Regions from separate parts of the Homo sapiens genome. Here region 1 is linked to region 2. A link means that fine-mapping ties the variant in region 2 to the plasma level of a protein whose gene starts in the linked region. Region 2 holds a variant in brackets. A gene starts in the other region. All regions are shown on their reverse strands. Region 1 holds the start of TOP1 (DNA topoisomerase I). Region 2 holds the start of PM20D1 (peptidase M20 domain containing 1).

Evidence for each region. PIP is the posterior inclusion probability: the model's chance that the variant is causal. Protein levels are from antibody-based Olink assays in UK Biobank. Linkage for the fine-mapping came from a reference panel and not from the study's own genotypes, which makes the PIPs less certain.
Region 1: it holds the start of TOP1, and the variant in region 2 is fine-mapped to the plasma level of the TOP1 protein (UK Biobank, PIP above 0.99).

Annotation. Positions count from the first base shown.
Region 1 is chr20:41,027,502-41,032,499 of GRCh38, reverse strand. It overlaps TOP1 (DNA topoisomerase I), which reads right to left and starts at 3,678. Exons shown (of 21, transcript NM_003286.4): 1 at 3,400-3,678; 2 at 3,045-3,069. The coding sequence starts at 3,432. RefSeq lists silencers at 3,338-3,407, 3,628-3,979.
Region 2 is chr1:205,847,502-205,856,911 of GRCh38, reverse strand. PM20D1 (peptidase M20 domain containing 1) reads left to right here and starts at 6,780. Exons shown (of 13, transcript NM_152491.5): 1 at 6,780-7,008; 2 at 8,941-9,027. The coding sequence starts at 6,840. LOC107985250 (a long non-coding RNA gene) reads right to left here and starts at 2,157. Exons shown (of 2, transcript XR_001738417.2): 1 at 1-2,157. RefSeq lists an enhancer at 6,557-6,851. The variant A/G (reference allele first, on the strand shown) is at 9,147.

The DNA of each region.
Region 1 (4,998 bases), not on the chromosome of region 2:
CAGATAGCTACGCAGCCTGTACAGTACTGTAATAATGACTCAGCCCCACTACAGTTAGTTCTACCAATACTTAGGAAGTCTTTTCACTTAGACTTAGATATGGTTTCTGCTCCAAATTCCTAACTCACTGTCAACATTTTAAATATAAATAACAGAGTCTCCCAGCAGTTGAGTATGGGTCAGAATGTTCTAAATTACATGCAAAGAGCTACAATTTTAAATATTGCGAAGAATGAGCTCCAAAGTGGGGGGACGGGGGGGAATCTTTTATATCTTAGGGGATGAGGGCAGGCAAAATGAGAGACGTTTGATTTTAATATATGAACTTGTACAGTTAATCTGTAAGATGGGTTAGGCCCTCTTAAAATCACGCTTAAACAATCTCTTAATACAAAGTTCAATAATGACATGTCTGGGCATAATTAAACATTGATTTCTACTTTTTTTAAAGTTTTTTTCATAGTTACATAAATCAATCACTGGTTAACAATGTATTACTTGAGATAGCAAGCATAGTTACCAACACCACATCTTCCAGACAATATTCACAAAGAATAATTACACCAATGTCAGAACTTTATGGTGGCAGATTCTCTTCAAAAAGCATGTTTAGATAAAAAGCAAATGACAAATTATCAAATCCTTCCTTCTCTCCTTTTTCAGCTCTGTAAGAAAATAGAGATTTGTGGCTTTTTATTTTTTCATGCTAGTATCATATAGTATCACTCTAGCATAGTGGCTCAGCTCATGGGATTTAGAGTGGCCAACTCACAGCCCTTGGGCAAGCTAGTAAATACACTGAAGCCTCAGTTTCCTCATCTACAAAACAGAAATAACAGGACCTAACTCACAAGGGTCCTTCCAAGGATTACATTTAATTAGATGATCCATGGAAAGAGCTGAGATTCATGCCTGGCAGTAAGTATTCAATAAATATTAGCTATTATTGCTATTAAATGTGAGCCAACACATTCTAAAAGTCAACATACGCAGATTACTTCAGCCTCTATAAAAATGTCAGTAAAGATCAATAACCTAGCCAGCTCACAATCATTCACGTGACTTAGGTGAGAACCATGTAAGTTAACTTTCTCACAAGAAAGGGCTAAACTTTGTTTCATTACTTACATTACCTACTCAGCCCAGCCTGACAGCCAAAAGAACACATTCCATATTAAAGATCCCACCTTCCTCTAGCAAGGTCAAAAGGACTTCTTACATCCTCACCTGCACATCCTTTCTTTGCTCCTGTATCCCAAAGAAACATGTCTATACTGTGGCTTTCTAAACTGCAGGCCTCACCTCCTCCCTCTTTTAAAATCGTGATAGGTTGGTTAAACGTACTTAAGAAACACTCCAACCCCTGACAATTCTCTGCGCCCAGTCTTCCACAACCCCCAGCTCAGAAGTCACCTCCTCTGAGAAATTTCCCCACCCTCAGACAAAATTAACTCCCCTATACTTCAAAGCATTTTGGGTACACATATGCCCCAGTAGTTACCTTATAATTAACTAATTATGTCTCCCCCAATAGACTGAATTGAGAGCAAGGGAGTGTTATGGTTACAGGATCAGCTCTAGCACCAAGCACAGTGGTTGGCACATATCTGGTGCTCAAGAAATGCCATACTTTAAACCAGATTCTCTCCTGGCTGAGTACCATCTCCTGCTGGATGCCCCACTTCAAACTCTGAACATAAGGTTGCTCTCAGTAGAGCAGGCTAACATGATGGACTGCTGATTACAACATTAGAAAACCTACTCATCAACTTCTCCCATTGGAGAGGTTCCCGGAACCCAAACTCAATTGAGCAGGATTATGTACCATCAAAATCAGTGGGAATTCCCAGCACACTACAGAAGGTAACTTCTCCTTCAACAGGGTTGTTCGAAAGCCTGCAAGGATGAGCTTTTTATTGGAGGACTCTTCCCTGGGTAACTGAAGTGGAAATACAGTAAGAATAAATGCCTTGATTTGGCTGAAAAGGGTTCAAAAACATAAAGAATTGGGAAAAAAAAAAAAAGCCAGTTCTTGATTCCTGAAAAACAGTGGCTCGTGAAAAAGAATGAACAGGAAGCAGGGGTGGGTACTGGACACTCTTTGCTTCAATAAATAAAATCTTTTTTTCCTCCTTACAACCCAAACGAAAAGGCCAACACACCAGGTCCACAAGAGATGCTCAACAATCTTTCCTTCCAACAAGTACACTAAACTGCGTTTCCAGAAAAACACTGCATTGGGAACCTCGACCACAATGAAAAGTTCCAGTGACTAACATAATTTTTTAAAAATCCAACATTTACATTGGGTGACCCACAGAGAACTTGCAAACTTTCTTTAGGGAGGTACTGCTACCTTTGCAAAGAACGTAACTTGGGAAAAACAACCTGGAAATATAAAGAACTCCACAAAGCGTGGCTTTAGTTTTAGAGCCATAATTCCTATCATAAACAGCCTATCAAAAAAAAAATTAACAGTTGCTTAAGGAAATCTTTCATTCTGGAAGCAGAAAAGGAAACAAACATGAAGCATAAAGGGAATAACCCCCAAAATAAAGTTTAAAAAATAATAATTCAGTCCCCCAGCCTTCCCTCTCTGGTGAAGTATGTGATTTATACGGCTTTGCTCTGCAGAAAGCTCATTCTGGGCAGCTCAAGGAAAGAGCCGAGGGAGGGAGAGAAAGAGACACAGGCACAGAAAGGAGAGGAGAGAGAAAAAGAAAATGGCGCAGAGACTAAGTCCCGACCGTCGACAAGGCGACTTTCCCGGGAGGAATCCCGGCCCGGAAAGACCGCCCGAGGCCCGGTGGCGGACGACACGGGGTCTCCGTTGTCCCCTCTTGGGAGGGCCGGGATCTGGAGGAGCTGGGGTCCCCGGAAAGGGGGTCAAGAGGCGGCCCGATGGGAACAATGGGGCCGGTGAGCGAGGAGCCGGGACTTAGTCTCTGGGACGCCATGTCTGTCCTCTGCCCGGCACCGGCAGGGCGCGGGGGAGGCGGCCGGCGGCTGGGGGGCCCCGGAGTCGGCGCAGGGGGCACACTCACCATTCAATCGGAAATCCGCTTCGATCTGGAAAAAGAAAAGGAGAGAATATCAAACAACAGCCACTTTAACCCCTCCGGCGGCGAGCGCGCGCGGCCGGGGTCTGGCTCACCCTGCGCCCCCGGGGAGGACGGGGACCCGGGGGTGGCCACAGAGGGCAGCCATCCCTGCCTCGAACTGTAACTTCGCGGCCCTCGCTCGCGGCCTAGCGAGCCGATCTACTCCGGCAGGCGGCCCCTCACCGGGGGCTCCGGCCTGTCAAAGCTGCCGGGCCGGGGCTGGGGTCGGGGCCTGCGCCGGGGGTCGCGGGACGGCCAGGCCGGGGTCCGGGGCCGCCAGGGTCAGGCCGGGCCGTACCTGGGAATCGTTGTGGAGGTGGTCCCCACTCATGTCGGCCCGGAGGGACGAGCGCGGCGGCAGGCGAGGCGGCGTGGGGGAGACGCAGACGGCGAACCGGCCTGTGCGGGCGGACGGGGACTCCGGAGGCTCGAGGAGGCGCAGGTAAGCGGCGGTGACTGTGGGCCCGAGACTCCAGAAACGGCTGAGGCTGCTACCACGGCGGCGACGCTGCCTGACTGCCGGGCGGGCGGCGAGAACAGACCCCAGCAGTTGTGTAACAGCCTAAGTTCGCATTTGGGCTCACTGCGCCTGCGCGGCCGCTTTTAAACAACACGTCGGCGACGTCAGCGCTCGCGGAAAGAGGCAGAGGGTTGCGGCCCGCCCCCTCGCTGTTCGCCAGACGGACCTGTCTTTGCATCGCAAGCCCCGCCTCCGGACCGTGCGCGCTCCGCTGTGATTTGCATAAGGAGCCGACTCCTCCCACGGCGTCCCACCCCAAGCAGCCTCCCCTTCCTCTCCAGACGCTTTTTCTCGGAACCCCAGCCCCTCTGCTAGGCAGTGCGCAGGCGCCACCCGGGCACCGCCTCCGGACCAGGGCTGGCCGCGCAGCCACGTGGTGGGCCTTTAAAGGCCGCGGCGGGACCCAGCAATCTTGGGCAGAGCTGGTATCCGGCGTCCGCATCTCCTTGGAGCGGCGAGTACCTTGGCAGCTGGGACCCCAGAGGTCTCCCCAGCGCCTCCTTTCTTGCTAAGCCGACCCTGAGGCCGCCTGGTGGGAGGAGTCCCCTCCCCAGCCTTTGTCCAGGCCCTCCAACTTCTGGATTATTTCACGCCCACTTTTTAAAAATTATTTTAATTTTTCAACCAACCAAGGGTCCGGTTTAACCCCAGTTTTCCGCCGAGTACATGTAGCCCTGGGTCACCAAGGGTCTGATTTCTTTGGTTCATTCTACAAATACTTATTGAGCATCCGCTATGAGCCCAGGAATTGTGCTGAGGGAAGGGGGAATGCAAGAGACCAAAGGGAACTGAACCTGTCTCTATCCGCCCCTGTATCCCTGGCATGCTGGGAGGACGGGGCAAATGGGGAATAGAACTACCGTTTATAGAGCATCTATTCTGTGCCCAGCTCTGAATTCTCACAATAGCTCTGTGAGGTCGCCTGTATTACAAAAGTCAAACTGTCCTAAAGACAAGGGACCAACAGCCAGCTACCTTGCATCTATAGTTGGATACCTCTCAAGCTTCTCTGGGAATGAACTGAACTCCACTCAGCTAGAAAAAGCCCCATCCTGACACCTTCCTTTCCCTCATTTCCCACTAGTCCCGCTGATTGCATCTCTTTGCTTCATCTACTTCTCTCTGCTGCCCATAAGCCTTTGAAGTCTGCGTTCTCCTGCTTGGATTAATACAATGTGCTGGCTGGGGGTGGTGTCTCACACTTGTAATCTTAGCACTTTGGGAGGCCGAGGCTGGCAGATCACTTGAACCCAGGAGTTCAAGACCAGCCTGGGCAACATGGCAGAACCCTGACTCTACAAAAAAATACAAAAACTGGCGGGGTGTGGTGGCATGTGCCTGTAGTCCCGGCTACTCGGGAGGCTGAGGTGGGAGGAT
Region 2 (9,410 bases):
GCAGTGGTGAAAGTAAGAATCCTTTTCTTGTTCCAGTTCTCAGAGGGAATGCTTTCAACTTTTCTCCATTCACTATAATGTCAGCTGTGTGTTTGTCATAGATGGCTTTTATTACTTTGAGTTATGTCCCTTCTATGCTGACTTTGCTGGTGGCTTTCATCATAAAGTGATGCTGGATTTTGGCAAATGCTTTTTCTGCATCCATTGAGATGATCATATAATTTCTGTTCTTAATTCTGCTTATGTGATGTATTACATTTATTGACTTGTGTATGTTAAACCATCCATGCATTCCTGGCATGAAATCCACTTGATCATGGTGTATTATCTTTTTGATATGCTGTTGGGTTCAGTTAGCTAGTATTTTGTTGAGGATTTTCACATCTATGTTCACCAGGGATATTGGTCTGTAGTTTTCTTGTTTTATTATGTCCTTTTCTTGTTTTGCTATTAGGGTGATACTGGCTTCATAGAATGACTTAGGGAGGATTCCCTCTTTCTCTATCTTATGGAATAATTTCAGTAAGATTGGTACCAATTCTTCTTTGAATGCCTGATAGAATTCAGCTGTGTAACCATCTGATCCTGGGCTTTATTTTGTTGGCAATTTTTTAATTACCATTTCAATCTCACTACTTGTTATTGGTTTGTTCAGAGTTTCTATTTCTTCCTGATTTAATCTAGTAGGGTTGCATATTCCCAGGAATTTATCCATCTCCTCTAGATTTTCTAGTTTGTGTGCATAAAGGTGTTCATAGTAGCCTTAAATGATCTTTTGTATTTCTATGGTATCAGTTGTAATATCTTCTGTTTCATTTCTAATTGAGCTTATTTGGATCTTCTCTCTGTTCTTGGTTAATCTCACTAATGGTCTATCAATTTTTTTTATCTTTTCAAAGAACCATCTTTTTGCTTCATTTATCTTTTGTATTGTTTTTTGTTTGTTTGTTTCAATTTCATTTAGTTCTGCTCTGACTTTTGTTATTTATTTTCTTCTGCTGGTTTTGGGTTTGGTTTGTTCTTGTTTCTCTAGTTCCTTGAGGTGTGATCTTAGGTTCTCTATTTGTGTTCTTTCAGACTTTTTGATGTAGGCATTTAATGCTATGAAATGTCGTCTTAGCACCACTTTTGCTGTATCCCAGAGGTTTTAACATGTTCTGTCACTATTATCATTCAGTTCAAAGAATTTTTTAATTTCCATTTTTATTTCATTGTTGATCCAAAGATCATTCAGGAGCAGATTATTTAATTTCCACATATTTGTATAGTCTTGAGGGTTCCTTTTAGAGTTAATTTCCAATTTTATTCCACTGTAGTCTGAGAGAGTACTTGATATAATTTTGATTTTCTTAAATTTATTGAGATTTGTTTTGTGGCCGATCAAATGGTCTATCTTGGAGAATGTTCCATGTGCTGATGAAAAAAATGTATATTCTGAATTGTTAGGTAGAATAGTCTGTAAATATCAGTTAAGTCCATTTGTTCTAGGGTATAGTTTAAGTTCATTGCACTCCAGCGTGGGTGAAAAGAGCAAAACTCAATCTCAAAAAAAAAAGACTCACTACTAAGATGGTCAATATCTCAAGCTCAGGCTTGGTCAGACCTATAACATGCTATCACAAGTATGTGTTAAAGGGCTATGCAGATGAGGGATGCATTAAATTTTGACCATAGGAGGCCTCATTAACCAAATTATATTAAATTATTATATTAAATTAGTAGGCCTCATTAACCAAATTATATTTAAATATTATATTAAAAAGTTCAGAGACATTTTTCTTTTTAAAAAGCCACACATCTAGTGTATGTGTTATGTGAACACAGATTATTCTGTTTAGCACAAGGTGCTTCTGCATGCAGGTGTAGATGTTCCCAGGGTCAATTATTCAAGTGACCTTAGCTACATAGGAGAAATAAATTTTATCTGTCTCTGGGCTTTTTGGAAGAATTCACATATAATTCTGTGGATACCCAAAAACTGAAGAAGAATATGGTTTTATCTTGTCACTTAGCTTATCTAGTTTACTGTCACTATACATTTCCTTTCCTATGTTTGTCTCCTATTTAGTAAAGACTTCCAGCCTTTTCAGCCTGGCCTCAGCTTGGCTACTGGGCATTAATCCCTGAGCCACTCATTTTTGTTTTTTCCTTCCTTCCTTTCTTTTTTTTTTTTTTTTTTTTTTTTCCAGAGACAAGGTCTTGCTCTCTCACTTACGCTTGAGCACAGTGGCACATTCATAGCTTACTGCAGCCTTGAATTCCTGGAATCCAGCAACCCTCCCACCTCAGCCTCCTGTAACTAGGACTACAGGTGCTCGCCACCATGCATGGCTAATCCCAGAGCCATTTGTCCCAGGGTGTTAGAGAGGGGGCTGCTTGCTGCTCCTAGGCCACCTTCTCCCACCTCTGACAACTTTGGAGGGGTTGTTTTTAATTAGATTTAGGAAGGTAATCTCATCACTCTCCATGAGATTTTCATAAGGGGAGGGAGGAGTTCCAAGAATCCTTTTTTCCTCTGACCCATCCTTCCTCAGCTCTGTACTCAATGGGTGGTAGGGATGAGGGAAAAAGACTGATGTTATAGCTCAAAGTTGTTGACTGCCTAGAGGCCTAGAAATGTGTTAGTAATGAATCTGGGGTAGGCCTGAGTACGTGGAGTGTATATGTACCGGTGTGTTTGGGTGTGTAAGGAGGTAGGGGTGGGAGGAGCATGGAACATAGTTCTGGGCAGTTGCACAAGTAGAAGGAAATCCTAGTTCTACTTTTTGATGATTTAACATTTATTGAATGACACATATGTAGGGCAAAGTTTGAGAGAGTTTATACTCTAATGCAATGGCTGGATGAACTCTCAATCGTTGCCCTACATATGGTGGCTTAGTTTTTCCAAGAGCAAATCTACAGTCTCTACTCTGCCCATGGGAATTAGATTGTCCTCTGATCAGTCACAAAATAAACTTCTTTATCACTTTGTAAAAGAACTGTGTCTCCATTGCTATTTCTACCACCCACCCCTTGCCCCTGATTTGCAGCTGACCTTTATGAATGTATTTTCCGAACTCAGCCAGGGCTGTAGTATTGGACTTCTCAGAGCTAAAAGTCACTGTTGGAATCTGGATGGCACCTGTCAGAGTCAAATGGTCAGAGATGAAAGACTGAACATGAATTAATCATTTTTTTTTCTACAGTCCTCTGTGCACAAAAAGTTCTTTTGCCTTCATTATCGTATTGCAGAGGGCAAAACACTAATATGAGGTAGGCACTATTGTTTTCTCTAATTCGAAGATAAGGGAAAAAGCTTGAGTCCAGGAGTTCAAGAGCAGCCTGGGCAAAATAGTGAGACCCTATCTCTACAAAAATAATAATAAATTTAAAAATAATAAATACATAAAATAAAAAGTATCTTTTTAAAAATTTTTAAAGTTTGGTAGAGATTAAGCTATTTTTTACTAAAAATTCATATATATATATATATTTATGACCTTGGACTAGATTTGTTAAGATTTTTTAAGCAAGAAAACATCACTAATTATAAAAGAATATAATAATAAATTCAACTATATTATTAAGACTTCAACCCATCAAAAGGCCATTAAAAAAATAAAAACACAAGACACAAATGAAGAGAAATATTTATAATTTAAATAAAACTGACAAAATTTTAGACTCCACAATATATAGAAACCCTTAAAATTCAATAAGAAGACAGCTCTAAACAAAAATGGGCAATAGATATGAACAGTCATTTTACCAGAGAAACATGAATGGCAAATAAGCATATTTAAAGATGTTTAGGCCAGGCATGGTGGTTCAGCCTGTCATCTCAGCACTTTGGGAGACCAAGGCAGGAGGATCATTTGAGGCCAGGAGTTCAAGACCAGTCTGGGCAACATAGAGAGACACTGTCTCTATAAAAAAACTTCTAAAAATTAGCTGAAGGTGTTGGTGTTCACTTGCAATCTTAACTACTCAGAAGGCTGCGGCAAGAGGATTCTTTGAGCTCAGGAGTTGGAGGCTGCAGTGAGCTATACTTGTGCCACTGAACTCCAGCCTGGGTGACAGAGCAAGACCCTATGATAAATAAATAAATAAATAAATAAATAAAGCTTAAACTCTTTAACAAACTAGAGAGTACAAAATAATACCACAAGGAGATATTTTCCAGGCACTAAATGGGCAAAATGAAGATATTGGAAATGCCAATGCCAAGAGCTAGTGAGAAAGTGAAGCAACAGGAACTTATATACTATGCACTACCTTGCTGATTAGTATAAATTGTTCCAATCACTTTGGAAAATAATTCAGCCTTCTCTTGTAAAATAGAACATACAGTACAACACAGCATTTTCACTCCTAGATATATATTCCAGAGAATCTCTTTTACCTGTGGCCCAGGAGACATGTACAATAATGTCAATAGACTGTAGCAAGATATAACAGCATGCATAAATCCCACAAACAGTGTTGGGTAAAAAGAGCAAATTGCAGAAGACTACACACAACATGATGTCATTTTTATAAGATATACACACACACACACACTATACATATATGTATATCATACATATGTTGTAGAACTATTTAAAACACACAACACGGTCATACAATTACCTTGGGCAGGGAGTTGGAAAATAAAGGCAATAGAACACATGCACCTTCAATGCTACTGATAATTTTCCATGATTGGCTAGATCTGGGAACAGTGTGGGAATTAGACAGATTGCAAGAATTGGAGCAGTGACAGGAGAAAAAATGCAGTTTGACCAGTTAGGTCTAAACTCCAAATCACGGGTGTTCATGTTATTATTTACTTTACATACACGTTGTACGTACTCTTAATTATCAAATATTATGTGATAAGATAATTTAAAGAATATTTAAGGACCAGGAAGTGTTTATGACATAATGTTAAAGGAAAAAAAGCAGAACATAGAACTTTGGATGCAGTATATGCATCTGTTTCATTTTAAAACAGGGACATCCTTCATTTGTGGGTATTTGTGTGCAGAGAAAAAAGATTGGATAACATCAAAATATGATGAGTGAACGTCTCTGGATATTGGGATAGCATGTGATTTTTTTCTTTATACTTAATGTTCCAAATATTTCACAAGGGCATAAATATACATGAATTTTACAATCATAAAAATTGTGCTGGGTGTGGTGGCTCATTCCTGTAATACTAGCACTTTGGGAGGCTTAAATGGGAGGGTTGCTTGAGTCCAGGAGTTCAAGAGCAGCCTGGACAAAATAGTGAAACCCTATCTCTACAAAAATAATAATAATTTTAAAAAATAATAAATATATAAAATAAAAAGTCTCTTTTAAAAAAATTTTAAAGTTAGGTAGAGATTAAGCTACTTTTTACTAAAAATTATGTCAATGTTCATGTTTAAATTTCAACTCTATTTTTAACATTCTAAATCTTAAACTAGGTGGTGAATCCAGAAATGTTCATTATGTTATTTTTTATATCTTTATAATATGTGAAGTATTTCATGATACTGTTTTAAAGTTGCTATTAAAAAGTAACTAGGCAGGGTGTGGTGGCTCACGCCTGTAATCCCAGCACTTTGGGAGGTCGAGGTGGGCAGATCACCTGAGGTCGGGAGTTCGAGACCAGCCTGACCAACATGGAGAAACCCCATCTCTACTAAAAATACAAAATTAGCCAGGCATGGTGGTGCATGCCTGTAATCCCAGCTACTTGGGAGGCTGAGGCCAGAGAATTGCTTGAAACTGGGAGGCGGAGGTTGCGGTGAGCCGAGATCGCCCCATTGCACTCCAGCCTGGGCACCGAGAGAGAAAAAAAAAGAAAAGAAAAGAAAAGTAACTACATGGCTGAATTTTTTTTTTTAAGCAAATCTTAAATGAAATGCAAACACCAGGACTGTGAACCTGTAGCTTTGGTCACAGGTAGCAATATGGCCTTACTGGTTGTATAGCACTTACTGAATTTTTCTTGAGAATTCTAAAATTTGAGAGTGATGCCAGATAAAATTGCATCAAGAAATCTGAAAGGAACGATTTATTCTGGCTTCAGGAAATCTGATTTTATATTTCTGTGACATAAGACAGGTTTTCTTTTTTCCAGAATGATCCTCTACTCTGAATAACCATAAAATTTCACTTGTGGAATACATCAAAATTATTTATACATCAAAATTCTCTTAAATATTTTATAGTAATCTTTCTAAAAATCCTTCAGTCTTACTGTACTTGTCTAGAGTTGCAAAAATGTAGTGTTAACATTAATATTAAAAGCACTTTCAATGAAATTTCTAAACAGGAGCCAACCCTCTGAGCTGGTATTTCAAAGCAGTATCTATAAACAGAGCAATTTGTTCCAATTTCAGATGAAATCAAGCTGGGAACCTAGAGAGCTCCCCCGCCCCAGGATCTAGGGAATTGTAGTCAGGTTCTAAGCTTCGGAAAAAACGAGCAGCAGAGTATGGTCTGATAAGCTTCGTGCATTTTATTTTGCTTTTCCTCCTTTATTTGATTTGTTGTCATACAGGAAAGGATTTATGGGTGAGAGATCAAGTGCGGACCAGACATGACTCTAGCCTGGAGCCCGACCTCACCTCTGCTCTGCAGGAACTGCTGGCCTCAGCACGAAAACCCACAACCCTCGAAAGGCCTTAAGGATCCTGGGCGGGGTCATTCTGTCAATTGGTTGTTCCGCTGTCCTAGCGAAGCGATGATTGGTCAGATCTGGATATGGGGTGTGGCTAAGGCTGTTTGCCGGAATAAGAGCAGAGCTAGGGCCAAGAAACGCTAGTCTGGGCGTTTAGGTCAGAACTACCCCGGTAGCCTGACAGCAGGAGCTCGAGAGAAGCATGGCTCAGCGGTGCGTTTGCGTGCTGGCCCTGGTGGCTATGCTGCTCCTAGTTTTCCCTACCGTCTCCAGATCGATGGGCCCGAGGAGCGGGGAGCATCAAAGGGCGTCGCGAATCCCTTCTCAGTTCAGCAAAGAGGAACGCGTCGCGATGAAAGAGGCGCTGAAAGGTGAACCCGGGTCCCCTTCACCCACCTATGCTCATATGTGGGTCCCTCCCTCCCCAGGTCAACCCGTGACTCCCCGCTTCCGCCGCAAAGCATCTGCTACTGCAGCTGGAGCCCCGACACGCACCCCAGCCCGGCCCCAACACCCTTCCCAGCACATCGTGCCCCTGTCTGGGGACGCCACACTTCCCCCATACCTGGCTCCTGGAACTCTGGTGTGCCCTGCCTAACCTGGAAGCTCCAACTTCACCCCTCTTGGCGTGACCACCGTCCATTCTTTCCCCTGCTTGCCTCGAGTATTACACCAGCTTTCATTTGTACATCAATTTTAACCTTTGAAAGTTTGCATGCCTGATAAATTACTGCGGTGTCGTAAAATAAGACAAATGATATTAGTCTTATCTACAAAGGAGAGAAATTGAGGCTTAGGTCAGCTAAATGATCTTCCCCAGGGCCCCACAGCAAAGAGTGGGCAGTGGGTGACAGCATCTAGTGCCTGTCGGACTCGCTGGGATCAGATGGCTCTAAAGAAAGGGAGTGGAGTGTTCCCGGGGTGTGGGATGTTCCTAATTCTCAATCATAATTGAAGAACATGTCTCCTCTAGATCTCTAATCCAGACCAAAAATTCATCCCTGTTCTGAATCTGCATTTTCCAGGAAACAGGAAAGTTTCTGTTGAGTGCTAGATCCTATGGGATGAAATCCTTCTTTACCATTCAGCTTAGCTCCAGTCTTTTCCCTTTCATTAAGTAATGGATTAAGAGAGACTGCCTGCATAAACATATAGAAGCAGATGCAGGGACCAAAAGCTAACCCCAATAGTTGGATATAGATTGTTCATATGCTAGAGTGACAAGCCTGGGAGGCAGAGCAGGGCTTTCCCAAAGCATAAATAATTCTCTAAAAGGCATTAGACAGCCACTCACAGTCTGCACAGAAGAGAACAAAAGCTACATAAGCTAGAATAGGGACCTCATAGCAACACAGCTTGGAACTCTGAGCAGGGGACAGAACACCTGAGATCAGATCCTTGGGTCTGCCCTTGAGTAGGCACTTGAATCTTTCTGAACCTCGGCTTCCCCATCTATCTGGTGGGCTATGCTATTGTAGGGTTGATCCTTAGCAAAACTGATGAAGTTTGTCTTTCAGAGACCCTTCCTGCCTCAGGTGAATTTGTTTGCACTGTGTTCTTGGAGAGCAGTCTAATTCAATATTCTCATGATTCATGCTTTCCCTCCCAGTGGTTTTGTCTTTGATCATGGAACTCTTTAAAACTGTAAAGTCTTAAAGACTCAAAGGGATGAGCCCAGTGAAGGTTCAGGAACTGAGACAACTGAGTAAGGAGGGTGAGATTATTTTAGGACTGAGGAGTTTGTTTGGAGGCTTCTAAATCCACCCCTTCCCAGGCATTATATGCCCAAAAAGCTGGTCTTGGTTGACAGACTAGTGAGACTCTGCATAAGGAATAAGCCTTTACATACAAAAACACACAAGCCTCATTGATGTAGGGACCCAGGACAGTGGGTGCCTTGAGAATGATGAAGCTTGGATTCATCAAAGCAATTGGTGATTTCAGAGGTAGTGAGGCCTTAGGAAGCAATTTATAGTAGCTTCCCTTCAAGACCAGGATCCAAAAATCCACTTCCCTCCAATCTTAGACTGTATTTGCCTTTAAGAACCATATCAGCCTAAACAAACCCAGAAGACATAGGTTTAAATCTATAGTCTGCCTGTTGCTCAGACAGCTCACCTAACCTCTCCAAGCATTTTCCCTCATCTTCGAATTAGAGGAAACAATAGCGCCTACCTCACATTAGTGTTTTGCCCTCTGCAATATGATAATGAAGGCAAAAGAACTTTTTGTGCACAGAGGACTGTAGAAAAAAACAATGACTAATTCATTTTCAATCTTTCATCTCTATTTGACTCTGACAGGTGCCATCCAGATTCCAACAGTGACTTTTAGCTCTGAGAAGTCCAATACTACAGCCCTGGCTGAGTTCGGAAAATACATTCATAAAGGTCAGCTGCAAATCAGGGGCAAGGGGTGGGTGGTAGAAATAGCAATGGAGACACAGTTCTTTTACAAAGTGATAAAGAAGTTTATTTTGCGACTGATCAGAGGACAATCTAATTCCCAT[A/G]GGCAGAGTAGAGACTGTAGATTTGCTCTTGGAAAAACTAAGCCACCATATGTAGGGCAAAGATTGAGAGTTCATCCAGCCATTGCATTAGAGTACAAACTCTCTCAAATTTTGCCCTACATGTGTGTCATTCAATAAATGTTAAATCATCAAAAAGTAGAACTAGGATTTCCTTCTACTTGTGCAACTGCCCAGAACTATGTTCCATGCTCCTCCCACCCCTACCTCCTTACACACCCAAACACACCGGTACATATACACTCC